7 linked regions of the Homo sapiens genome follow. The protein of the gene in region 1 purifies or fractionates together with the protein of each later gene. This does not show direct contact. Each region holds a gene or a part of one and is shown in the gene's direction. Other genes may lie near its edges.

The links.
Region 2: the proteins of GNPDA1 (region 1) and ACCS purify together in Homo sapiens (affinity purification with mass spectrometry; 2 studies listed by BioGRID and IntAct, with this or other methods). This does not show direct contact.
Region 3: the proteins of GNPDA1 (region 1) and TANGO2 fractionate together in Homo sapiens (co-fractionation; one large-scale study listed by BioGRID). This does not show direct contact.
Region 4: the proteins of GNPDA1 (region 1) and UBE2R2 fractionate together in Homo sapiens (co-fractionation; one large-scale study listed by BioGRID). This does not show direct contact.
Region 5: the proteins of GNPDA1 (region 1) and FAM174A purify together in Homo sapiens (co-immunoprecipitation; one large-scale study listed by IntAct). This does not show direct contact.
Region 6: the proteins of GNPDA1 (region 1) and UBA6 fractionate together in Homo sapiens (co-fractionation; one large-scale study listed by BioGRID). This does not show direct contact.
Region 7: the proteins of GNPDA1 (region 1) and LGALS9 purify together in Homo sapiens (co-immunoprecipitation; one large-scale study listed by IntAct). This does not show direct contact.

The regions. Positions count from the first base shown.
Region 1 is NC_000005.10:142,003,028-142,006,527, reverse strand, and holds part of GNPDA1 (glucosamine-6-phosphate deaminase 1), read left to right. Parts: intron 1-201; coding exon 202-384; intron 385-1,411; coding exon 1,412-1,596; intron 1,597-3,265; coding exon 3,266-3,440; intron 3,441-3,500. UniProt on the Homo sapiens protein: Catalyzes the reversible conversion of alpha-D-glucosamine 6-phosphate (GlcN-6P) into beta-D-fructose 6-phosphate (Fru-6P) and ammonium ion, a regulatory reaction step in de novo uridine diphosphate-N-acetyl-alpha-D-glucosamine (UDP-GlcNAc) biosynthesis via hexosamine pathway.
Region 2 is NC_000011.10:44,065,048-44,069,069, forward strand, and holds the start of ACCS (1-aminocyclopropane-1-carboxylate synthase-like protein 1), read left to right. Parts: upstream 1-1,222; 5' UTR 1,223-1,654; exon of another isoform or gene 1,655-1,946; coding exon of another isoform or gene 1,947-2,249; intron 2,250-2,580; coding exon 2,581-2,868; intron 2,869-4,022. UniProt on the Homo sapiens protein: Does not catalyze the synthesis of 1-aminocyclopropane-1-carboxylate but is capable of catalyzing the deamination of L-vinylglycine.
Region 3 is NC_000022.11:20,027,610-20,031,109, forward strand, and holds part of TANGO2 (transport and Golgi organization protein 2 homolog), read left to right. Parts: intron 1-3,500. UniProt on the Homo sapiens protein: May be involved in lipid homeostasis.
Region 4 is NC_000009.12:33,823,660-33,827,159, forward strand, and holds part of UBE2R2 (ubiquitin-conjugating enzyme E2 R2), read left to right. Parts: intron 1-3,500. UniProt on the Homo sapiens protein: E2 ubiquitin-conjugating enzyme that accepts ubiquitin from an E1 ubiquitin-activating protein, and catalyzes its covalent attachment to other proteins by an E3 ubiquitin-protein ligase complex.
Region 5 is NC_000005.10:100,580,374-100,583,807, forward strand, and holds part of FAM174A (membrane protein FAM174A precursor), read left to right. Parts: intron 1-973; coding exon of another isoform or gene 974-992; exon of another isoform or gene 993-1,031; intron 1,032-3,434.
Region 6 is NC_000004.12:67,621,156-67,624,655, reverse strand, and holds part of UBA6 (ubiquitin-like modifier-activating enzyme 6), read left to right. Parts: intron 1-402; coding exon 403-530; intron 531-1,433; coding exon 1,434-1,521; intron 1,522-1,730; coding exon 1,731-1,825; intron 1,826-3,500. UniProt on the Homo sapiens protein: Activates ubiquitin by first adenylating its C-terminal glycine residue with ATP, and thereafter linking this residue to the side chain of a cysteine residue in E1, yielding a ubiquitin-E1 thioester and free AMP.
Region 7 is NC_000017.11:27,629,710-27,633,987, forward strand, and holds the start of LGALS9 (galectin-9), read left to right. Parts: upstream 1-1,478; 5' UTR 1,479-1,556; coding exon 1,557-1,595; intron 1,596-4,278. UniProt on the Homo sapiens protein: Binds galactosides. Has high affinity for the Forssman pentasaccharide. Ligand for HAVCR2/TIM3. Binding to HAVCR2 induces T-helper type 1 lymphocyte (Th1) death.

The DNA.
Region 1 (3,500 bases):
TGGTACTGGGTGGGTGGACACTTATGGATACTGGCTCAGCCTGTGCCGAGTGGCTAGGGGTCAGAGGGCTGGTGCCTAAGGCTCCCAGATGGGCAGACCCCTGGGAGTGTCTCTGTAGGTCAGCATGGTGTCCTGGCATCCTTCTTAGGAGAGGGGCTTTGGCTTGGCCTAGGCATAACCGAGTGTCTCACGGCCCCACAGGCCTTCCTCGAGACCACCCGGAGAGTTACCACTCCTTCATGTGGAACAACTTCTTCAAGCACATTGACATCCACCCAGAAAACACCCACATTCTGGATGGGAATGCAGTCGACCTACAGGCAGAATGTGATGCCTTTGAAGAGAAGATCAAGGCTGCAGGTGGGATCGAGCTATTTGTTGGAGGTGAGCTTGACACTCTGCAGCACACATGTCCAGGGCCAGACCCGTGGGAAGGAGGACAAGACACAATGCCTGTCTGCAGACAGCTTCTTCTGGGTGTGCTAGTGACCGTAGAGACAGAGGCGGGAGAAATGGGCCCTGCCTGGCTCTGTTACTCAGGAACTATGTTATCTTGGAGATCTCTTTCTGCAGTTTGATGCCTTGTCTGTAAACTGAGAGGTTTGGGTTTGGACTCTGAGATTCTGTCTACTCCCCAGTCTTAAGGTTTTATGGATCAGTCCTGGAACTTATCTAAACATTTAACATCATGGACTCATGTAGTTCCGGAAGGCTCCACACAGCCCCTGTAGATAGCCAGTTGAACCCCAGAGAAGTTAGGTGACTCACTCAAGGTTCACAGGTGGGAGCAAGTGTGTGCTTCTTGGATTTGTGCTCGGGTCCTCTGGGCTGCCCTTCTGTGTATCCATCTATCGCCACCTCTGGAGTTACCCATGAGGGGTAACATTGAACTGCCTTTTATTGCTCTAGAGATCACTCTTCTATACTTCAAGGTGGGGAGGAGGGGGGCAGGACCTCTCATCCTCTGAGATTTTAGAACCTTGGCAGCCCCTGTCCAGGTTCTCTGGGTGTTTTGTTCACTGCACCTCTATCCCAGCAGCAGGACCCTCTAACTACAGGCAGAAGAGACAGAGAAGGTCCACTTTTCTGACAATCTGGGGAGGCAGAAGCTGTTTGGAGTGTTTCCTCCTCAGCTTTTTGAGGGTGATAGCAAGTTAACAATGTCTGTGTGTGCCTCAGATAGACATGATGGGGAGGGTCTCCTCTGAGACAGTATGGCAAAGAGAAAGAAATGGTAGGGAGGGGGACAGATCACATGTTTAAGGTGTACCTGCCCAGGGCTGCAAATGAGAAAGGTGACACAGCTTTCAATGATTTTTCTTCAGACCCTAGTTAGGGAAGGAGAGATTGTCCATTCTTGAAATCTTGGATCCCTGGGACTGACAGGGCTGCACGGGCTCTCTCCCTATAGGCATCGGCCCTGATGGACACATTGCCTTCAACGAGCCAGGCTCCAGTCTGGTGTCCAGGACCCGTGTGAAGACGCTGGCCATGGATACCATCCTGGCCAATGCTAGGTTCTTCGATGGAGAACTCACCAAGGTGCCCACCATGGCCTTGACGGTGGGGGTGGGCACTGTCATGGATGCTAGAGAGGTAAGGGCATAAGGGCCCCACCAGCTTGCGCTGGTGGACTTGTCTTTCTCTTGTTAATCTTAACTATACTGGTACCACCTACATTCTTATTAAAGATGAAGGCATGGTAAATAAGGCTAAAATCCCTGCTGACCCTGTTACTCACTGTTCCTCTTGCGTCTTTGGAAGACATCATTATTCCCAGTGTGAGGTGAATCCCTTGAGCACGTTTTTGGTGCCTTTGGCTGACTGCCTGAGACAGCAGGCTCTCTGGCCTCAGGCCCCTTTCATGCTTTTCACAGGCAGAGAGGAGGCCAGCATCGCTAATGTTGGAATATTTGTACCTGACCAGGTATGGAGAGAGGGGTTCCCTTGTTCCTTGTAGTTGGTAGAGGTCACTGTTGGGACACCAAGGATGCTTGTGCTTCTAGCCCCGTGCTCAGAGATTAATAAATGTGGTGAAGTATGATTAAAATATAAGTGTTTTAAACTGAATTTAGCTTTTCCCCTAAAAAATTGGCTATCATTTGAATGTGAATTTTTTGTGGTTCCAATTTCCTTATTTTCATTAGAACTTTAGAAGCATTTTCTCTTCCTTTCTGACGTGTATAGACATGTTAGATTTACATTTCTTTGCCCAAGCCAATAAACAAGCATCTAAATCAGTGAAAACTTCCCTGTTTAAAGTGAACTTTTGTGAAATGAGTGATGGCACCCAGATTTCTGTTGGGTAATCTTCAATCAGTACGTGGGGTGGGGGTGTTTACTCGCTGTTTTTAGCTCTGCAGCTTGGAAACAGGTTTAGGGCCGTCTTTATCATGAGGGCATCTTGATCTGGGAAAGGACCTGGGGCTGGAAATCAGGAAATTATCTTTTCTAAAGAGTTCTGGGTTGCTGAGGGGTCCGGAAGAAATAGTCACATTCCCTCTCTGCTTCTGCATTCTAATCTTTTAAGAAAGGAACAGTAAATCCTGTTCACAACTCTGTGGCACATGTGAATTAAAATGAAAGGAAATCTACAGAACTGAGTTTTTTTCTCTTTTCCTGCCCTTGAATAGAGCTGAGTTCTTTAAGATCACTTACATTCTCGATATTTTAACTGTTAAGTGGAGACTGTGCCTTTGTTTTATTATATATTAACAAAAACCATCACCCCAAGTCACATTAGTTCATAGGTTTAATGCTGTGAACTGAAAGTGACCAGATAATGGGGCAACCTTTCTGGGATTCAGCCTTAGAGGCCCCACAGATAACTCCCACCATTGCTTGCAAAGTGCCCTTGCTGGTGGTGCAGGTTGGGAGCCCTCTTTCACAAACTGTGCTTGTGTAGAGTCACCCAGCTGATGGGATAGCAGGCCTGGGCATGGCATGTCTGTTTACAGGGCACCTTCATAGTCATCATCAAAGATACCTGGAGGCACTGTCACGTGGTAGTCAAGAACATGAACTTTGGGGTCATAAATGACCCTGGGCAAGTTATTTAACCCCCTGGGGCTCTGTTTTCTTATAAGATGGAGATAATGATGCTGCCTGCCTCGGGTTATTTGTGTGATAAAGCACAGGGAGCACTGAGCAAAAGTATGTTGCATGGTAACCACTTACAATGTGATATGAAAAACAATCATCCTTACAACTGTTTAGGGTGTCTGGAATGCTCCCCTCCATCACAGACTTGTTTTCTGATCCCCAGGTGATGATCCTTATCACAGGTGCTCACAAGGCATTTGCTCTGTACAAGGCCATCGAGGAGGGAGTGAACCACATGTGGACCGTGTCTGCCTTCCAGCAGCATCCCCGCACCGTGTTTGTGTGTGACGAGGATGCCACCTTGGAGCTGAAAGTGAAGACTGTCAAGTATTTCAAAGGTGAGGGAGGTGTGGGTCCAGGAGGAGGTGGTCAAGCTTAGGGTGTGCTAGGAGTAAGGA
Region 2 (4,022 bases), on another chromosome or scaffold:
CTGGATGACAGAGCGAGACTCCGTCTCAAAAAAACAAAAAAACATAAAAACCTTTTTTTGGTAGAGACACGGTCTCTCTATGTTGCCCAGGCTGGTTTCAAACTCCTGGGTTCAAGGGATGCTCCCACCTTGTCCTCTCAAAGTGTTGGCATTACAGGCGTGGGCCGCCACACCTAGCCAGAGTTCAACAAATATTGCAGGCACGTGTGGGAGACCAGGACATGCCTCCCCAAAACATGAAGGATTGTGCTAAAGACAAGCAGCAGCACATTCAGGAAAGCTCTCTACCCTGGCCCTATTTGCCTAAAAGTAGGACACAGGTTTACAAAGACAAAAGGTATCCTGTCCCTCTGTCTACCTAGGAGAACAAAGACAACTTTAGACCCCTATGGCCTGGAGATGGTACCAGAGGAATTTACATTAACAAGCTTGACTAACTGGCCTTTGTCTTTTTTTTTTTTTTTTTTTTTTGCCTTCTCACAAGTTGCCTCCTGGAGAGACTCAAAGCCCTATTTCTTTGTCTTGTAACTTAAAAAAATTACTGTTCTTTGTTGAAGATGCTATAAAAACTGGAATTCAAAGTCACCTCTTCCAGAACGACTCATTCCCTCCAGATTTCTCATGTATAAATGAAATACACATGTCAGTAAATTTCTGTCTGTTTTTCTCTTGTTAATTTGTCTTTTGTAACAGGAGTCTCCCCCAACTAAGAACCTATGAGGGCTACAGAAAATCCCCTACAAATGAAAGGGGCAGAAATGACAAACTGCGATGAAAGGCCATAAGGATGCTCACACCCGAATCTAAAAAGCCCTTTGTGTGGGCCGCAGCCAAGCATACTTTGGCAAGAAATTTCTGTGGCTCTAACCTCCTTTGAAAACTGGAGAACCAAGGCCAGGAGGCAGAAGGAGGTGGCAGACCCGGCCCGGCGGCGGCCCAGCACGCGCAGGCCACCCAGAGTGGAGGTGGGAAACGGCATTACGCCCCTTTCCCTTTTCCTGGTCCCGCGGTGCTACCTCGTGTGCCACCCTTAAAGCGTAGTCCCCGCCGAGACCGCCCCCGCCTGAGTGGCAAGGGGACGAACTGCGCCCTGAACAGGCCTGGAAGCCCAACCCGGTGCGGACCGCCCTCAGTCTCCTAGTCCGGGCGCGCTGAGCGCAGGGGGGCGCTGTCCTCACCCACGCGTAAGTCGCCGCAGGGCGTTTCCGGGCGGAGAAAACCTACACGTGATGGGCGCCCACCGAGTGCCAGCACCGCCTCCTCCAGCTCCGCCAAGTAGGTGGGATCCACTACTTTGCAGAGGAGGAAGCCGTTCAGGCCTCCCTCTGTGCACTTTGCAAAAGCCTCTGCCCTTCCATCTCGAATCCCTTGGCGCCGATCACACTTCCTCTGCCTGGAAACCTGGAGCCGTCTCTCGCGAGACGTCCTCCGCCCTGTAGAAGGCCGTTTCGGTTCTTCGTGCGCGGTAGCCGCCCCACTTGCGGGATTCCAAGGCCTCATCGAGTGCGGGTATCTGGCTGTGGATTCGCCGCCGTCCTGCTGGACGCCTGGAGGCTCGAACCCCGCCGCCCCCCTACCCCAGGCTTTACTCCCACCCCGGCTTCCGCCCACTGTGCTGCCCTTCCTCGGACCTGGGCTGTCGGGAGAGCTGGAGGTGAGCGCTCTTGGGAGAGCCCAGCCAATTTAAAGAGTACCCCTGAGAAGACTTTGCGGAGGAAAATTTAACTGCGGGTACCCGCTGAGTTTATGGTGCGCCCAGTGTTACCAGAGCTTGTGTTGTGCATCAGGACTGGGAAAATTGGCAAGGAGTTACGCTATAATGACTCATATTTTATTGAACTTTGGTCATCAGCCAGGATTTGTTCTAAGTACTTTATTGTCACTAACATATATATTTATGTCTTCACGGCCACCCCGAGGTGGTTACTGTTATATCCACTGTGCAGATGAGGAAACTAAACTGGCTTAGAGAAGTGAAGGAGTTCACACCCGCGGGCAGGAGTAGACCACCCTCTCCTTGGTGTCCACACCTCGTTTCTTCAGGACTGAAGAGGCAGGCCCTGGAGCTCTGCCTGGGTTGCCTGCACTTGTGGAGGTTCCCATTCCTCCCTTCCCTCAGTTCCTACCCGCCATCTGCCTCAGAACACCACATAATCTCATCCTACCCTTTACACCACAAGACCCCCAGGACTCCCAGGCAATACTCTGCTTTAACTCAGGAAATTTTAACCTGGCATTTGGTAATTGAGGTGAGCAAGGGTGGAAAAAGAATGTTGATGACCCCTTAGGCTGGAGAGTGAAAAACTTTTGCAGAAGTAGAACACGCTAAAGCAGCAATACATTAAAGTCACGTCAATGTGGCAAGTGCAGTCCCTGGCACGTACTAGGTCCTTAACAGATTTTTCTTGTTGAAGTCGTTGCACATATGGTTACAGCTAAGGGACACAGGAAGTGATGAGTGCATAAACCTAAAGGAAGGGGCAGATAAGAGAAAGGGGACTCCCATGACTCCAACTCCTTTCTGATGCTTGGTGCTATGGAAATCCCTTGAGCAGGCCTGTGCGTTTTGTCTTTTTGCAGATGTTCACCCTTCCTCAAAAGGACTTCAGGGCTCCCACCACCTGTCTGGGCCCCACCTGCATGCAGGACCTGGGCAGTAGCCATGGGGAAGATCTGGAAGGAGAATGCTCCAGAAAACTGGACCAGAAGCTGCCAGAGCTCCGTGGAGTGGGTGATCCTGCCATGATCTCCTCTGATACCTCCTACCTGTCCTCTAGAGGAAGAATGATTAAATGGTTCTGGGATTCAGCTGAGGAGGGCTACAGGACCTACCACATGGATGAGTATGATGAGGACAAGAACCCCAGTGTGAGTGAAGCTCCCCTCCCACTGGGACCCAAGAGAGAACTGCAGGGTGGGGTACCCTACCTTGACCAATAAGGCAGCATCCAGCCTGCTCTTATGAGGTTGGAGTTATGGTACTCTGACCTCCAAGAGGGCTTCTGATGTAGCTTAGAGAGGCCCCAGTGTACTGCCTGGATCAGGAAATGGTCCATTTAGAATATAGGGGACCTTGATTTCTGAGGGAGGAATTCAAGAACCATATGATGTTCTATGGATTCTGACCCACGACCTGTCGACTATCCAACTTTAGAGCTAGGGCAGAACTAAGGTTCAGGTTGCAACTGTTTTACTTATAGGTTGTGTGTTGCTGAGCTAGTTACTTAACTTCCTTGAATCTTAAGTTATCTCTAAAATGAGATAATAAGGCCAAGCATGGTGGTTCATGCCTGTAATCCCAGCACTTTGGGAGGCTGAGGCAGAGGGAACACTTGAGGCCAGGAGTTTGAGACCAGCCTGGGCAGCATAGCAAGACCCCATCACTACAAAAAGGTAAAAATAAAAAAATTAACAGGGTGTGGTGGCGTGCACTTGTGGTCCCAGCTACTGGGGAGGCTGAGGTGGAAGGATTGCTTGAACCTGGAAGGTTGAGACTATAGTGAGCCAAGATCATGCCACTGCATTCTAGCCTGGGCAACGGTGTGAGACCCTATCTCAAAATAACAACAAACAAACAAAAATAAAATAAAATGGGATAATAATACCTGTTGTGTAGAAGAGTCAAGATTAAATGAGAGCAAGTATATGAAGTTTTTAGCACAGTGCTACTCAATAAATGATAGCTGCTATTATTATTTTCTGTCCCAAATATAAGCTATTCTCATAATGCCTTCAGAAGTCAGAAAGCTGTTACAAATAACCCTTTAATAATCTTTATTTGTTGAGCATCTACCATGTAGATGTGAACAGAAACAAAGTTCTTATCCTCATAGAGCTCATATTCTAGTTAGGGAGACAAACAGTGAATGAACAGAGAAAATATATGTATACTATATGGTGGTGAGTACTATAGAGAAAAATAAACCAGGTTAAAGAAGACAGAGAAAGATGGGTGGGCTGGGGATGTTGCTATTTAGTAGAAGGAGGTCACAGAAGGCTATTTTAATAAGATGAACATTTGA
Region 3 (3,500 bases), on another chromosome or scaffold:
TTCCTTTTTTTTTTGAGACTCAGAGTCTTGCCTTGTCACCCAGGCTGGAGTGCAGTGGTGCTATCATAGCTCACTGCAGCCTCAAACTCCTGGGCTCGAGCAATCCTTCTGCCTCAGCCTCCTGAGTAGCTGGGACTACAGATGCATGTCACCATGCTCGGCTAATTTTATTTTATTATTATTTATTTTATTTTACTTTACTTTTTTGAAACGGAGTCTCGCGCTGTCACCCAGGCTGGAGTGAAGTGGCACAATCTCGGTTCACGGCGCCCTCCGGCTCCTGGGTTCAAGTGATCCTCCTGCCTCAGCCTCCTGAGTAGCTGGGATTACAGGCCTGCACTACCATGCCTGGCTAATTTTTGTATTTTTAGTAGAGACCGGGTTTCACCGTGTTGGCCAGGCTGGTCTTGAATTCCTGACCTCAAATGATCTGCCCGCCTCAGCCTCCCAAAGTGCAGGGATTACAGCCATGAGCCACTGCACCCTACCTTATTTTATTATATTATTAGTATTATATTGAGACAGAGTCTCCCTCTGTTGCTGTGTTGCGGAAGTGCAGTGACATGATCATAATTCACTGCAGCCTTGATCTTCTAGGCTCAAGCCATCCTCCTACCTCAGCCTCCCAAGTAGTTGGGACCACAGGCATATGCCACTGCACCTGGCTAATTGTTTTTATTTGCTTTTTGTAGACAGGGACTTGCTGTGTTTCACAGGCTGGACTTAAACTCCTGGCCTCAAACAATCCTCCTGCTTTAGCCTCCCAAAGTGCTGGGATGACAGACATGAGCCCTGAAGGGATGGGGCTTTGGCCCGTTAAATGTCACTGGAAATGTTTCCCTCCAGAATGTGCTCCTGGGTGACCTGAGCGATGGTATTAACAACTATGGGTCCCACCAGCCTCCAGAGCTGCCAGTCGTGGCTACAGGAGACTCAGCCTTAGGCTGGGGCACAGAGAGGCTGAATAGAGGGTGAATGAACAGGCAGCGTATGGGAGGGACCAGCGTTTCTTGGTATTATACAAAAGCTAGTGGAGGTGGTGCTGGTTGGTGTGGGGTGGGCGACTGGCACGGTCAGATGCCTGATGCCTGTTGGCCTCCTCAGAAGGGGAGGCTGGCAGTAGTGGGTTCTGGGACATGCAGGAGGGTGGCCTGGATTTGCCCTGCAGCACTGAGGTCTGCCTGTTCCCCACTGGGTCCTCCATTTGAGGCCCTGTCAGCATGGCCCTCGTCCCCCTTGCTTCTTTTCCCCATGGGCCTCTGCAAGGTTACTGCCCACCCTCCACCCCACCTACCTGCCTGTGGTGGGCACTGAGAGCCAGGGAAGCAGATCCTCACTGCCAGGCAGCAGGCCATGTGCGCATCCATCAGGGTGCCAGACCTTGTCCCCACGCAGCCCTGGCTGGGGTCACTGCTGCTGCTGCTCTCTGCCTGTGGCTCTGGCCCATCTTTGCCCAGGCGTTCTGTCTGAATGGTTTTCTTGTCGTGCCTTTTTTAGACACCGCATGGAGTGAGGTTTGGGGCTTGCCTCAACTGGAGTCTCATTCTTCTTAGAGAGGGAGTTTAGCCCGTTTCCATTTGGCCTTAGGACAGAAGGCCCTGTTGGTTTCTCTGAGAAGCCAGGGGAGGAGCCCTAGGCTGGAGAGGGGATTCTAGAGCGGGGTGGCTCTCAGAAGCAGAAGGTGGGCAGAGAGGACGGTGCACGCTGGGAGAGTTCTCGAAAGCATCAGCAGATGGGCCCAGAGTGCCTGGAAAGCTTCCGTCCTTCACAGACAGCGCCATGCTCTAAGAATAACCCATGCCAAGTCCAGGCTTTCTTCCTGTTTTGCAGAATTACCAGGTTGTTAGGCTAGGGGAACGTATGCTGGGATTCTGGGAAGAATTCCACCCGCACTGGTATTCTTAGAGGACGGGAAGCCCTTGGCTGCGGTGTGAAGAGGGCTCTCTCTTTCCATTCATATCTCATAGATCCTCTGGCCAGGCTTGGGGGTGTTGAGGGACTCCAGGAGTGTGGGGGGAACTTCCTCCCTGGAAGAGGCCTGTGCTCTGTCCCTGCTGAGGCTGGTGGCATTTGCAGTCACATGGTGAGCTCACAGTGACTGTCCCCCTCTTACCTCCCTGGCAGGGTTGGCAAAGACCACACCAAAGTCCCAAGTGATTAGTTCCCCGGCCTCCCTGCACAGAGGCTGTGCATGTCCCCTGGGCATTCACTCTAGCTGTCTGGGCTGCAGGGAGGCAGGGTGCCTGGCCCAACTGGAGATGGCACTCTACTGGGGGTGGTTAAGTGTTGACCATCACAAAGGCGACCTCTTTTGTCACATCTGTGTGAGAGGAGCTGGACTTTCTCAGATATGGATGAGCCTCACGACGCACATCCTTTCGTCCCTTGCTTGTCTACCAAGTCCCTATGTGCTCCAGGAGGCAGTGGTACAGGCCAGCCGCTCCGTATGACCAGAGAACCAGTGCCTCACACTCCAGCGCATTTCCTTCCCAGGGTGCACCAGGACTCTTGTAAAGAGGGCATTCTCGTGTAAGCAGTTGCTTTTTTTTTTTTTTTTTTTAATTTTTATTTTTTTGAGATGGAGTTTCCCTCTTGTCTCTTAGGCTGGAGTGCAATGGCACGATCTCGGTTCACTGCAACCTCCACCTCGTGGGTTCAAGTGATTCTCCTGCCTCAGCCTCCTCAGTAGCTAGGATTATAGGCACGCACCACCACACCTGGCTAATTTGTTTGTTTGTTTGTTTGTTTGTTTTTTGAGATGGAGTCTTGCTCTGTTGCCCAGGCTGGAGGACAGTGGTACGATCTTGGCTCACTACAACCTCTGCCTCCTGGGTTCAAGCAAGTCTTCTGTCTCAGCCTCCCAAGTAGCTGGGACTACAGGCGCCCGCCACCACGCCCGGCTAATTTTTGTATTTTTAGTAGAGACAGGGTTTCACCATATTGGCCAGGCTGGTCTCGAACTCTTGACCTCGTGATCCACCCACCTTGGCCTCCCAAAGTGCTGGAATTACAGGCGTGATAATTTTTGTATTTTTAGTAAAGATGGGGTTTCACCATGTTGGCCAGGCTGGCCTCAAACTCCTGACCTCAGGTGATCCACCCGCCTTGGCTTCCCAAAGTGTTGGGATTACAGGCGTGAGCCACCTCGCCCAACCAGCAGTTGCTGTAAAATTTTTTAAAAGGATGTCACTTATACTACCCAGTCATTAAGACTTCCTGAGGTGGAAAGATCACTTCAGCCCATGAGTTTGAGAATAGCCTGGGCAACATAATGAGACCCCACCTCTCCAAAAAAATTTAAAAATTAGGGCCAGGCGTGGTGGCTCATGTCTGTAATACCAGCACTTTGGGAGGCCAAGGTGGGTGGGTCACAAGGTCAGGAGATCGAGACCATCCTGGCCAACATGGTGAAACCCCATCTCTACTAAAAATACAAAAATTAGCTGGGTGTGATGGCACGCACCTCTAGTCCCAGCTATTTGAGAGGCTGAGGCAGGAGA
Region 4 (3,500 bases), on another chromosome or scaffold:
GCCACCGCGCCTGGCTGAAAAAATTTTTTTAGGAAAATGATTGTTTGCCTTTTTGAGACAGGGATTCTTTTGAGAAATTGAAGAATTTTCTCAGAGAAAATGGGTACACGTAAACTAATTTTATGTATCTTTTTCAGAGGGTTTACTGCCGATGAGCTAAGAATCCTCTTGTAAGGTATTTGGATAGGCAACTTAAAGACAATTTTAAACAGCTCCTTTAAAATTATAAAACGAATGCTCTTTTATTCCCCCATTTCTCTCAGTTAACTTTGAAACTACCTCTTAGGGCATTTAGCTGTCTCTTTCTGGAAGATGAAGTTGTCTTGAGTACTGGGTGAACTAAGGTAACGTTATAAATGGAAACACAGTTAAGGTCTAAGGGTTTTGGAAACTAAATGAAGTTTCACTTTTTGTTGTTTCTCAGAACATTTTTCAAACCAAATATGATGCCTTAGTTTTTCATAGAATATGCTTTTATCCTGTTTAGTTGATTACAAGATGCATATTTTTCTACCTTTTAACTTCTTTTTGATTAAGAAATTTCTTAGATGGCCAGGTGTGGTGGCTCATTCCTGTAATCCCAGGACTTTGGGAGGCCGAGGCGGGTGGATCACCTGATGTCAGGAGTTCAAGACCAGCCTGGCCAACATGGTGAAACCCGGTCTCCACTAAAAATACACAAATTAGCTGGTGTGGGCCGGGCGCGGTAGCTCATGCCTGTAATCCTAGCACTTTGGGAGGCCGAGGCGGGCGGATCACGAGGTCAGGAGATGGAGATCATCCTGGCTAACGTGGTGAAACCCCATCTCTACTAAAAAAATACAAAAAAATTAGCCAGGCATGGTGGTAGGCACATGTAGTCCCAGCTACTTGGGAGGCTGAGGCAGGAGAATGGCGTGAACCCGGGAGGCGGAGCTTGCAGTGAACTGATATCGAGGCACTGCTCTCTAGCCTGGGCGAGAGAGCGAGGCTCTGTCTCAAAAAAAAAAAAAAAATTAGCGGGTGTGATGGTCCGCACCTGCAGTCCCAGCTACTTGGGAGGCTGAGGCAGGAGAATTGCTTGAACCCAAGAGGTGGAGGCTGCAGTGAGCCTAGATCATGCCAGTGTACTCCAGCCTGGGCAACAGAGTGAAGCTCTGTCTCAAAAAAAAAAAAAAAAAAAATTCTTGGAATCCATGAAGTCTTGTAATTGCCATCAGCCAAGTGGTACTTATAACCTAGTTGTGAGAGACCATTTCATTGAAATCTTTTGGTAAATTTTTTTTTAAATACCAGTTTCAATGTCATAGATTTGCTAAAATAAGGATTATTTCTTCCTGGATTGAAGGATTTAGGTCCTAATTAATACTCTGCGTTGATTCTCCTTTTTTCACCTTTTGTGTCAGGAAAAATTTTTATTGAGGACTCATTAAAGGAAAAGCAAATTGTAGGAAAAGTCACTTCCTTAAAGATAGTAAGTGAAAGTATTAGGACAATGATAACCTTAGAGCTTTTAAGAATGATCGGCCAGGCGGTCGCCTGTAATCCCAGCACTTTGGGAGGCAAACAACAAAAACAAAAAGAATGATCTTCATAAAAGCAAAGCTTTTTTTTTTTTTTTTTTTGAGACAGAGTCTCTGTTACCCAAGCTGGAGTGCAGTGGTACAATCTTGGCTCACTGCAGCCTCCATCTCCTGGGTCCAAGCAATTCTCCTCCTCAGCTTCCCGAGTAGCTGGGGCTACAGGCGTGTGCCACCATGCCAGACTAATTTTTGTATTTTTAGTAGAGATGGGGTTTCACCATGTTGGTCAGGGTGGTCTCAAACTCCTGACCTCAGGTAATCCACCCACCTCGGCCTCCCAAAGTGCTGGGATTACAGGCATGAGCCACCACACCTGTCCAAAAGCAAAGCTTTTAAAGCTTTAAGGCTAGTTAGACCATTTTTCAACATAATGATAAAATGTTCTGTTCCATCTTTCCAACTTAATGGTCAGTTGGAGACACGTGAGAGAAAGGAGACCATCCAGCAAATTAGGCTACCTCTGATAATCTAGTTATGGAAAAATAACAGTGAGGAAAAGGTATAAATTCAGAGTTTAGGACTACAGATTTCCATCTTGCTTAAAGATTATATTGAAAAGGTTTAATTCTTTTATGTTTCTGAACTTCTTTTGAACTGCTTCACATACGACTACAGAGATATCTGAGTTGGTTGGATGCAGTGGCTCATGCCTGCTCACACCTGTAATCCCAGCACTTTTGGGAGGCGGAGGTGGGCAGATCACTTGAGGTCAGGAGTTCAAGACCAGCATAGCCAATATGGTGAAACCCCATCTCTACTAAAAATACAAAAAGTAGCCGGGTGTGGTGGCATGCGCCTGTAGTCCCAGCTACTTGGGAGGCTGAGGCAGGAGAATCGCTTGAACCCAGGAGGTGCAGGTTTGCGGTGAGCCAAAATCTTGTGCCACTGCACTCCAGCCTGAGCAACAGAATGGGACTCTGTCTCAAAAAAAAAAAAAAAAATCCTACAGAGATTCCTGAGTAAAATTTAACCTCTTTGATTGTGTTAATATCAACTTTATTCAGCAAGAAATTGTTATTCAGAGATTATGCTTATGTACCTCAAAATTAGTTGACTCTGAAGTGAATGGAATGATAGATACTAAGTTGAAGAGGTAAATTTAGTTCACATCACCAAGGTTTGATGTTACTTAAATGATCTTCCACATGATAATTGGAAAATTCAGGTGTTGGAATATGTATTTAAGATGCAAAGTGGCTAGGAGTGGTGGCTCACGCCTGTAACCCCAGCACTTTGGGAGGCCGAGGCAGGCGGATCACGAGGCCAGGAGATTGAGACCATTCTGGCTAACACGGTCAAACCCCGTCTCTACTAAAACTACAAAAAATTAGCAGGGCATGGTGGCACGTGCCTGTAGTTCCAGCTACCCGGGAGGCTGAGGCAGGAGAATGGCTTGAATCCAGAGGCGGAGAGGTTGCAGTGAGCTGAGATCACGCCATTGCACTCCAGTCTGGGCAACAGAGTGAGACTCTGTCCCCTGCCGCCCCCTCCAAAAAAAAAGAAAAGTGAATAGTCCACTTTAAACACCTTTATTTGATTTAGTAACAAATACATATAAAAATGTTTTGGTTATTGGGTGGGTGCAGTGGCTCACGATTATAATTTTTACCCAGCACTTTGGGAGGCAGAGGTGGGCAGATCACCTGAGCTCGGAAGTTCGAGACCAGCCTGGACAGCGTGGTGAAACCCCACATCTACTGAAAATCCAAAAATTAGCCAGGCATGATGTCGTGAACCTGTAGTCCCAGCTATCCGAGAGGCTGAAGCAGGAGAATCTCTTGAACCCAGGCCAATCGCTTGAACCCAGGAAGCGGAGGCTGCAGTGAGCCGAGATCGCGCCACTGCGCTCCAGCCTGGGCGACAGTGAGACTCTGCCTCAAAAAAAAATAAAAAGGTTTTGGTTATTGTCTTATTATTATTATTATTTTTTGACGCTGT
Region 5 (3,434 bases), about 41 Mb from region 1:
AATTTACTAAGTATTAACTCACACGATCACAAGGTCCCACAATAAGCCATGTGCAGGCTGAGGAGCAAGGAAAGCAGGTCCGAGTTCCAAAACTGAAGAACTTGGAGTCCGATATTCGACGACAGGAAGCATCCAGCACAGGAGAAAGATGTAGGCTGGGAGGCTAGGCCAGTCTCTCACATTTTTCTGCCGCGTATATTCTAGCCATGCTGGCGCTGATTAGATTGTGCCACCCCAGATTAAGAGTGGATCTGCCGCTCTGAGTCCACTGACTCAAATGTTAATCTCCTTTGGTAGCACCCTTACAGACATACCCAGGATCAATACTTTGTATCCTTCAGTCCAATCAAGTTGACACTCAGTATTAACCATCACACTTGCAGTCTTCTATCTTTGCTGGCCACAGCTGAGGGATAGCTTGTCCTGCTTGGTTTTGGAGCACAGCCTCTATCCCTGCCATTCTTGCCAAAAGAGCGTCCTGTTAACAGACCCACTAAGATTATACCGTGTACTCCTGGTTCTGTTGCAGAGTTTGTTTGTTTGTTTGTTTTTGTTGTTTGTTTGTTTGTTTTGAGATAGATTTTGGCTCTCGTTGCCCAGGCTGGACTACAATGGCGTGATCTCAGCTCACTGCAACCTCTGCCTCCCGGGTTCAAGCGATTCTTCTGCTTCAGCCTCCCAAGTAGCTGGGATTACAGGTGCCTGCCACCATGCCAGGCTAATTTTCTGTATTTTTAGTAGAGGCGGGGTTTCACCATGTTGGCCAGGCTGGTCTCGAACTCCTGACTGCAGGTGATTCACTCACCCGGGCCTCCCAAAGTGCAGGGATTACAGGCGTGAGCCACTGCACAAGGCCTGCGGCATTTTTTTTGAGTCAACCAGTCTACCTTCTACAACTTCTATATCACCTCTCCAGAGAGTAGGAATCCTTAGCTACTTTTCTCATACCATATTGATTCTCCACTTTTTTCAGACTGCTGTGGAATTCCTGAGAAAGAGCAACTGAGGGATAGCAACATGGATTTCACTGAGTAGGTGGCAATTGAGTTAAAGTTATTTTTTTAAAGATATAAGTTAATCAAATAAGAGCCTATGAAGGCCCAGCATGGTGGCTCATGCCTGTGATCCCAACACTTTGGGAGGCCAAGGTGGGCGGATCACTTGAGGTCTGGAATTCAAGACCTCGCTTAAGGCTGGAAGACCATGCTTAAGGCTGGAAGAGAATTGGCTTAATTCTTGATAAGTTAAAAATAATTCCAATTGGGCATATAAATAAGAATGCCTTCTTCAATATTACATTTGGTCGTGGTTGAGTCATGCCAGGGAGGGAGTGGGGAGTGGTGGTTCCTACAGTAGCCCCTGAACAGCATGAAAACATCCAGAATAGAATTCTGAGGAAATTCCCACTCAAGGAATGAAATACTCTAAATGAGAGAGCTGGTCATACAGTCTTATAAATATAAACAGGTTCAAGGAAATGTTGGGCACAATGTAATATGATTGCTAGATCATAATAGTTATGCTAATTTGCATATGTTTTGAGGTTAATTACGAGTCTCAAAACGCCTTTCTGAAACCATATCTTAAGAGACTCTTTATGTGGTAGGTAATTTTCTATTTGAAAAAAATCTTTTAGATATTCCTCAGGGTCTCATATATAGTCAAGTTCAAAAGGCTATTTAGTGATAGAATTTGGATTAGGTTCTAGTAATTTTGTGTTCTCCTAGTTTATGAAACTGCAATTTTGATTTTACAGATTGACTTTTTTTCATAGTCTACAAATTCATTATCAGTATTATCATGGGTTTCAAGCGTTAAAAGGACAAGGGCTGTACAAAAGAATTCTAAGTGTTACATGTTTTTTTTTAATAACCTTCAGTATATTTTTTAAAGGATTAAATTTACTTTCAAAGTAAAAATATATTAGAACCTCATTATCTTATACTAATCATTTAGAGAACTATTACAGACTGCTGACTAAAGATTCAGATAAGATGAAAAAGAGCATTATTCATTTTCAGATGTTTTTCCAATGAAGTTCTAAATGTTATTGATGATTATAAAGGAAGATTTATTAAGTTTGTAAAATATGCACATTTTGTTTTTTTTTTTAATTTGGTTTGATCAAATGCTTTTCATTACGATGGCTCTTACTAGCAGAAATATTTTTGGAAGGCAGGATTTAAATTAAGTAGTAGTAAAGTTGTATAATTAGAATTAAAATCTATAAAAATTTGTATGTCAAAATATAGTTTTATATTATAATAAACTAGTTAGGCAATAAGAGAGTAAATGGGCAAACTTGCCCCATTGTAGTGTTTATTGGAAATCTTGTCTTTAGTATGGATAATTTTTGTTACCGTATTATAAATTTCCAAAGCATTGATTGTTTTATAGATTATACCTAGTAGCTTGTAGCTTTAGTAATCCTCATTTCTGAAGGTTAGAAATAGGAACAAATAACTGTATTTATAGGAACCATAGAAATGAATAACTGTTGTTGGCTCTTGAATAACATGGGGGCTAGGGGCACCAACTACACAGTCAAAAATCCACGTGTAATTTTTGGACTCCCCAAAAACTTAACTACTAATAACCTGCTGTTAACTGGAAGACTTACTAATATCATGAACAGTCAATTAACATGTATTTTGTATGTTATATGTATTATATACTCTATTCTTACAACAAAGCATGCTAAAGAAAAGAAAATGTTACTAAGAAAATCATAAGGAAGAGAAAATATATTTACTGTTCATTAAGTGAAAGTAGATCTCATAAAGGTCTTCATCCTTGTCTTCACGTTGAGTAGGCTGAAGAGAAGGAGGAAGGAGGGGCCGATCTTGCTGTCTCAGGGGTGGTAGAGGCAGAAGAGTTGAAGCAGGTGGAAGGGGAGGCAGGCACACTTGGTGTAACTTTACAGAAACACATCTGAGATTTTTGCCTTTTGATTTCTCTAAAACTGTTTCTATTGGTACCAATTCTTCTTCCACAGCTTGCTTTAGTTTTAGTGTCCATATCATAGAAAGGTCCATGTCATAAAAGAAGTTGAAAGCAGTCTTGAATAATTGGAATTCTTCTGCCACATTGACTACTGCCAATTTGTTTTCTGGTACAGCTTCTTCTACATCTTCTTCCTTATCATGTGGCACTGGTTCAGAAGCACTCATCTCCATCAAGTCATTTTCTGTTCATTGTTCCATTGTAATGTCAGTTAGCTCTTGAATTACTCCAAGATCCTCATCTTGACATCTTTTATTACCGATTTTTTTTTTTTGCAATATCCACAGTTTCTTTCATGATTTCCTTGATTGGCTCTATTGTAAATCCTGTGAAGTCATGTGCAACATCTTGAAACAGTTTCCTCCAGCAGAACTTACTGTTTTGCACTTGATGGCTCTCAAGTCTTTTTCAATAAAATAGCAGCATCTTCA
Region 6 (3,500 bases), on another chromosome or scaffold:
TCAGAATCTTTAAGTGCGGCCCTAGTTATTATACCATATTACATCATTACTCTATGTAATTATCTATGAAGCTATGTAGTTATTTACCCCTGTATTAAGTGATTTTAGACTGTTGTTATTTTTTGAGTTACAGCATGTGCTTTCAAAATAGGGAGACTGTATGGTTGAATTAATATTTTTTTAAATAACTGTTAACATGTATAGAGTAGGTTGAAAGTTTGAAAGTATAAAATATACTAAAAGTATACAGACCTGTAATAAGAAATTTATATTACTATAGTCCCATAGCTGCTTTTACTATCCACAGAGAAATGCTTGAAAACGTGAAAGTTGAATAGATGCAATTAAAATCACGGATAGTTTTAGGCTGTTTATATTATCAGATCACCTTCTTTTATCTAGGTTGCCTTGGAGATGATCAAAGTAACTGGTGGCTATCCATTTGAAGCTTACAAAAATTGTTTTCTTAACTTAGCCATTCCAATTGTAGTATTTACAGAGACAACTGAAGTAAGGAAAACTAAAATCAGGTATGTATGAAAGTCTATTTCTCTTGTATAATGAGAATGAAATAAAATATTTTACCTTTTAAAAGGGAAAAATACTAGCTTCACCTCTTTTTTCTTCTATTGTGTATGTGTAAATTTTTGCCATCACTTCAAGATCAGCTCAAACCTCATCTTCATTAAATATTTCTGACTAAAGTAGCCAAAGAACCCTTACAGCACTTTATCTGCCACATTATTTGGCATTATGGTTTCATCTGTGTCTGCCAGATGAATTAGAAGGTACCCTGGTGTCTGACTGTAGGTCATGAGATTTAGAAGAATTCCACAAGCTTGAGACAAAGCAGAACAATTCCTGGGCCTGTACTTTTTAGTTTTCAGATTGGCAACAACCAAAAACTTGAAAAAAAACCTACCTTAACAAGGGTGTGAGAAAGCAGACACTCTCATACATTACTAATGAGAGTACAAAATACTATAATCCACAGTAAGGGATATATAGCACTATATTTCAGATACATTTGCACAAGTCTCAAACTATATATTTGCAAGATAATTATTCTGGCATTATTTATCGTGGCCAATGATTAGAATAACCGAAGTGTCCAGTAATGGGGTACTGGAACATCCACACAGTGAAACCCATTTTAAAAAGAGAGAGACAACACTGTCTTGCTAAAACATACTGATTTATAATACACTGGAAGGATCAGCAAGGTACTGATTAAAAGTGGTTATCTATATGATGTGATGAAGAAATAAGATTATGGAATATTTTAGAAGATATATTATCCTTTATTTCCCCACATTAATTTCTAGCCTGATCACAAATAATGGACTTCTGAAAGTGGGTTTTTTTTGTGTGTGTGTCATCACTAAAAGGAAGAAAATTTCAATGTTTCTGTTCTGAATATTTTTCTGTAACAGAAATGGAATATCATTTACAATTTGGGATCGATGGACCGTACATGGAAAAGAAGATTTCACCCTCTTGGATTTCATAAATGCAGTCAAAGTGAGATACTTTTGTTCATTTAGTTCATTAGTAGCTTTATGTCTGGTTTCTGTTTTGTTTTTATTTATAATTTTATTGGAAGTTATAATTATTTACCATGAATTTGCTTTTTTTACTGGTCATAAAACATTGTTTACGAACAATGTTAAATAAGCATTTTATGTTTGAGCGAGGCTTTCATTGTTTCTTTTTTGGATATTCACTTTTAGGAGAAGTATGGAATTGAGCCAACAATGGTGGTACAGGGAGTCAAAATGCTTTATGTTCCTGTAATGCCTGGTCATGCAAAAAGATTGAAGTTAACGTAAGTATTCAACATTATATGCAGCGATTAACAAGAATTTAAATGTAAGTTGATGCACACTAAAAAATTAAATATAGAGGTTACTATAATTCAGATAAAAGCATTAGTCTTGTCTAATGACATTAATAAAGACAGTGAATCTGCCAGGTGAAGGCCAACAGGCTACCTCTCGAGAGATTCAGCTCTTCAGTTAATAGGTTTAGAAACCTGATTTGGCCAGTACACTTAAGTAAAAGTGGATCCGTCTCTTATGTTGAGACACTTAATGACCAGGCTTATGAGTAATCTAACTGCCAAATCACTATTTTTGTTCATTTATTCAACAAATTATTGTTTAAGGTGCCAGCTGTGTGCCAGGTACTATTCTAGTCATTAGGGAGATAGCAGTTAGCAAACCAAAGTTCTTTCCTACTTAAGGAGTTTGCATAACAATAAGGCAAGTATGTTAGGTGATAGTAAGTATTATGGAGAAATTAAAGAAGAATAAAGAGAAAAGGAAATATGGGGAGTTGGGGGTGTTGAGTTGCTATATTATACTGAGTAGTCTAGGTTTTCCCTTTGCCTATCATAGTCTCACCTGTTAAGGTGGAATTTGAGCAGAGACTGAAAGGAAGAAAGAACCAAAGAAAGCTAAAGTCTTTATCGTGGTCTGCAAGACTCTAAATTTAGATTCCTAGTTATCCTTCTAAGTTCCTTCCTTACTTTCCCTTCACAATATTCCAGCTACACTGGCCTCCTTATTTGTCCTTGAATACTCACTCTAATCATGCTCCAGCATGGGACCTTTGCTTTAGTTGTTCCCTCTGCTTGTAACTCTGAGACAGTGACCTGGCCAAGTCTCACCCCTGGTCTTTGCACTTCCTAAAGAGGCCTCATTTAATACTGCAACCTGTCCTCAGCCCCAGTCTAGTATGTCTAGTCCCCTTTACTCTTCTCTACTTTTTCTTTTTTTCAGAGCACTTATTACTGTCCTATGACTGCTGTGCTGCTGTGTATTTTGCTTATATTTATTGTTTGTTTGTTTTTGAGACGGAGTCTCACTGTGTCGCCTAGGCTGGATTGCAGTGGCGCGATCTCAGCTCACTGCAACCTCTGCCTCCTGAGTTCAAGCGATTCTCCTGCCTCAGCCTCCCGAGTATAGCTGGGATGACAGGCACCCAACACCACACCTGGCTAATTTTTGTATTTTTAGTAGAGACGGATTTCACCATGTTGGCCAGGCTGGTCTTGAACTCCTGACCTAAGGTGATTTCTCCCGCCTCAGCCTCCCAAAGTGCTGGGATTACAGGCGTGAGCCACTGTGCCCGGCCCATGTACTGTATATTAGCTATTTACCTGCTACTAGAACATATATTTCACAAGAGTGGGAATCTTTATTTGATCTTGTCACTGTTGTATCTCAAGCACTTAGATCAATACCTGGCAAATAAAAGGTTACCAACAAATATTTGTCAGACTAGTAAATGAATCTCTGCATGATGGTTGTGTTTAACGTATCTATTGGCTTTAACTATGATAATCAGTTGAGGTTAATCATTCTTAAATTATGATCTAGTCTGAATTATCTGTACCTTAAAAAGTAAAACTACTATTTTATTAGCTAAGGCATTAATTTGCCTTATATTATTTTTCATTAGGATCCCTCAGTATCTTTTGGATCAAGCAAGGCTAGTGT
Region 7 (4,278 bases), on another chromosome or scaffold:
CCTTGACCTCCTGGGGTCAAGTGAGCCTCCCACCTCAGCCTCCCATGTAGCTGAGACCACAGGTGTGCACCACCACACCTGGCTAATTTGTTTGTTAAATTATATGTAGGGACAGGGTCTTCCAACCTTTCCCGAGCTGGTCTCAAGCTCCTGGGCTGAAGTGATCCTCCTGCCTCAGCCTCTCAAAGTGCTGGTATTATAGGCATAAGCCACCACGCCCTGCCCATTTTTCTAAGTTGGATTATTTTACACTCCAGTCTGCTGTGAATGAGAGTTCCAGTTGTTGCGTATCGCAATCAATTTGTGATTGCCTACAAATGATGTGCCGTGATGAAATTGTCCCTGGTGTCCGAGAGGATCGCAAAGAATTTCCCTTCCTTTCTCTCCTTTCTGCTCCCCTTGTACTGTCTACTCCTTAAACTGGTACTTGATCCAGGAACATAATGGGGATGGACAGTGCAGATGGCACACATGGCCTCAGTCTATTGGAGCATCTCAAAGGAATTAGTCTGCAAATTCTAGTGCATCTAGGTGGAGCACAGGAAGGAAGAGAGGTGCAGACTCACGTATGGCCCTGGGGCACCTGCCATCCTCTCGCACCCGTACAGCCCTTACCTGCCAGCACTTACCCTACCCAGCTTGAGTTCTGGGCCTTCTCACCAGCACATCGCTGGGACCTGGTCGACTTCAGGTAAGTTTATTTCATGGCTCCCTCCCCCACGACCTGCACATGCCATATGTTCCTTCCCAGCCCCATGTCACTTGAAATGTTCTATCATGTCCAAGACTTCTCTCCTCATCCTAAAGTGCAGAAAATAAGGATGGAGAAGAGAAGGAGAAGAGAATCAAGAGAGATTCATTGAGAGGGAGGATCAGAAGCTCCTGGGCACCCCATACTGTAGAATAAAAATATTCATTATGGTGTTTTTCTTGCAAAATATTCCCCTCTACATAATTATGTTTTTACATGAATAATATAAATTTAAACAGGAGAAATACTTTTTGAAGAGTCTGAGAATCTTCATAAAGTTCAGGCGGCCACGAATTAGCTGTGTGACCTGGGGCATGCCCCTTAGACTCTGAGCCTCAGCTTCTCTGTATGTAAAATGGGTTGAAGCCGCCCTTCCCCACAAGCACCCTGTGCACAGGCAATGCCCAGCCCCATTATTTTCTGGACTCCGTGGCCAAGCATGCTTAGGACACACAGCCACATACTTCTGGGCAGTGTCATCTGGCAACTTGCTGTCATGTCAGTGTGGTCAAGCATTGTAGACCTCTATGAACCAAATATGCTTCAGGCTTGGGTTGAGCACAGGAGAGGGAGGAGGGAAAGGTCACTGGGGCTGGGAGTGCCTACTTCCCTCTGTGAGTGTCACCCCAGTCCACCCAGTACCATACCTTTCTCTCTCTGGACCCACTTCCTTTTGCTGCCGGCTCCTCCCCATTGAATAACAGCCAAGTTGCTTTGGTTTCTATTTCTTTGTTAAGTCGTTCCCTCTACAAAGGACTTCCTAGTGGGTGTGAAAGGCAGCGGTGGCCACAGAGGCGGCGGAGAGATGGCCTTCAGCGGTTCCCAGGCTCCCTACCTGAGTCCAGTGAGTTCCAGGGCTATGGGCACAGGGCTGCCTCAGCCAGAGGGACACAGCTCTGGGGCTCTGAGGAAGCAACTCCTGGGTGGCAGGGGATGGGGGTGGGGGCATCCCAAAGAGAACACAAGCAGGGCAGAAATATCAGAGGAGGTCATCCTGGCACACCTGTGCCGTGCTGAGCTCACTCATGCCTGGAGGGATGCTCCTTCCCACGAGTCATGGCTTTGACAGTGTTGACTGAGCTGTCCTGTCCTGTCCTGTCCTGTGTGCTCAGGGGAAGACATGTAGAGCGGGGTGGTTCATGTAAAGAGGAAGCAAGCACGCTTCTGGGACAGTAAGGACGCTACCCGGCATGGTAGTTAAGGGTGCTTACTGTGAAGGTGGCCTCCCTGGGTCCAGCTATTTACTGGCTGGTGGTCTCTGGGCCTCAGTTTCCATATCTGTGAAGTGGGAATAATACTTGAGCCCCCCACTCCCAGGGTTGGGATATGGATTAAGGAAGTAGTGTATCTAGTGTGTTTGAACAGTGCCTGACACACTGTAGGTGCTTTGGGAGTGTTTCATGTTATTGGGTGTCTGAGGGCAGCAGGGAAGACCTCCCGAGGAGGTGTCTGTGCTCTGAAGGTTGGGCATGGGCATGTTCAGGGCATCTGTGGAGGGGCAGTCTCAGAGGTGAGAGGGGGGTGAGGACTGTCCCTGCAGCGTGGGGTCAGAGGGCGGCAGGTGCCTTGCTGAAACCCTGTGAGGTTTATGAGTCCCCTTCATACACGGAAAATCTGAGGCTCAGGGAGGCAGAGGCCAGTTGCCAAATGCCTCCAGATGGGAGTGGCAGCCCCAGGAGCCCAGGAGACTTCAGGGGTCACTGTGTCCTGGGCCGGCTCCTGTCATAGGATCTCACCCCGCCTTGGCAAAGAGCTTCCCGAGGGGCTGGAGAGGGTGGGCTGATGGGTCCTTCCTGGGTGGGGAGGCAGGGTGGGGAGGGTGGGCAGAGGCAGGGTACTGAGGGAGGGAAGCTGCCATGGCCCACCTCAGCAGAGGCCAGGGTCGGGCTTGAGTGCCCCCTGGTGACACTGAGTCCAGAATGAGGCTGCCTACGTTCTGGTCTGCAGAGCTCGGCTCTGCTTTCTAAACTCCAGAGAGAAAGAATGGGGAAAGGAGGCCTGTTTCCTCCTGGCTGTCACCAATGACACCTCAGCCACCCTGTGGAGGCCCCTGAGGTAGGACCTGCACAGAGGGGGCTGGGGGAAGCTGGAACAGGCCGCTGGTGGGGGCCTTAGGGTCAGCAGGTGCTGCCTTGGGCATGTCACCCTGTCTCTGGTTTTCTGTCAAAGAGGGGATCCCAGAGCTTCTTCCAGGTTCTGACATATTATTATTCTGGTGACTGGTTTTTACTTTCTAATCCTTGGATTCAGAAGGAAAATTATCCTACGGACATCAGAGAGTTAAAACAGGGCCTTGGAGTCCAGACAAGAAAGATGATCAGTGCAGCCCCTATGGGTGTCCAGAGTACCCCTCTACCCCACGGGGGCTCCCCTGGGTTGGGACAATTAAGCCTCACTTGGTGACCCATCTGGCAGTCGGAGCCACGCTTCCTCCACATGCCGACAGTGGGGGAAGGTCACGCGGTTCGCTGTCCTGCTGAGGAGGGCTGAGTGCCATGAGGGCCTGGCTTGGAAACCTCACTCCCACTTCTTGTCTGGCCTCATCTAGCCCAGCCTCTTTGGAGGGCCTGGGGGAAGCTGGAACCACGTGCTGTGTGGTCCAGGAAGCACTGGGAGAGCCAGGAATAAGGATGTTCTCAGCTTACTCATGAGAGGAAGCCTGTGTGGTGGTTAGAAGCGTGGGTGCTGGGGTTCAAATCCCAGCTCTGTTGCTGACCAGTTGTGTAACTTTGAGCAAGTGACTGAACTTTTCTGTGCCTCAGTTTCCTCATCTGTAAAAGTGGCCGGGGTTGCTGTGAGGATAAATGTTCCTAGTCATGCCCAGAGCCCTCATGGACACACATGGATCCAAATGCCACAGCAGCCTTAGCTGGTCAACCTCAAAACAACACATTTGTTCTTACAGTGTTGGAGGTCAGAAGTCTAAAATCAAAGTGTCATGGAAGGTGGCCAGCAGGACCATGGAGCCTCTGAGGCAGCGGGGCACCTTGGCTAAGAGCCACGTACTGGCCTCCTGCTGGCACGCAGTCTTGGCCAGCCAGGCTGAGCTCCCCACTTCGGGGTCGGGCCTGGGTGTCCTCTGGTGATGCTGAGTCCAAAACAAGGCTGCCCACATTTTGGTTCACAGGGCTCAGCTCTGCTTTCTAGACTTCCAGATAAGAAGAGGAGGAAAAGTCCCCGGTCTCTGGGCACTATCAGGAACAGAGAGCAAGTCATGACTCAGCAGAGGGATCGATTTGTTCAATGCAAAGAGCTGCACTGTCATGTCTGACATGAGCCAGGGGCTCAGCACACGGAATCGCACCCAGTCCTCTCAGAACGCTGCCAGCCAGGGGCTCAGCACACAGCGTTGCACCCAGTCCTCTCCAGAACACTGTCGGGTGGTGTTACTGTCCTGCCATTCAGAGGAGGGAACTGGGGCACAGGCAGGTCAAGTGACTTGGCCAGTGTCAGAATTGCTAGTGTACAGAGCTGGGAGGCAAGCCCAGTCCCGTGGGACCATAAATCCAGTGTGAAAATCCATCCTC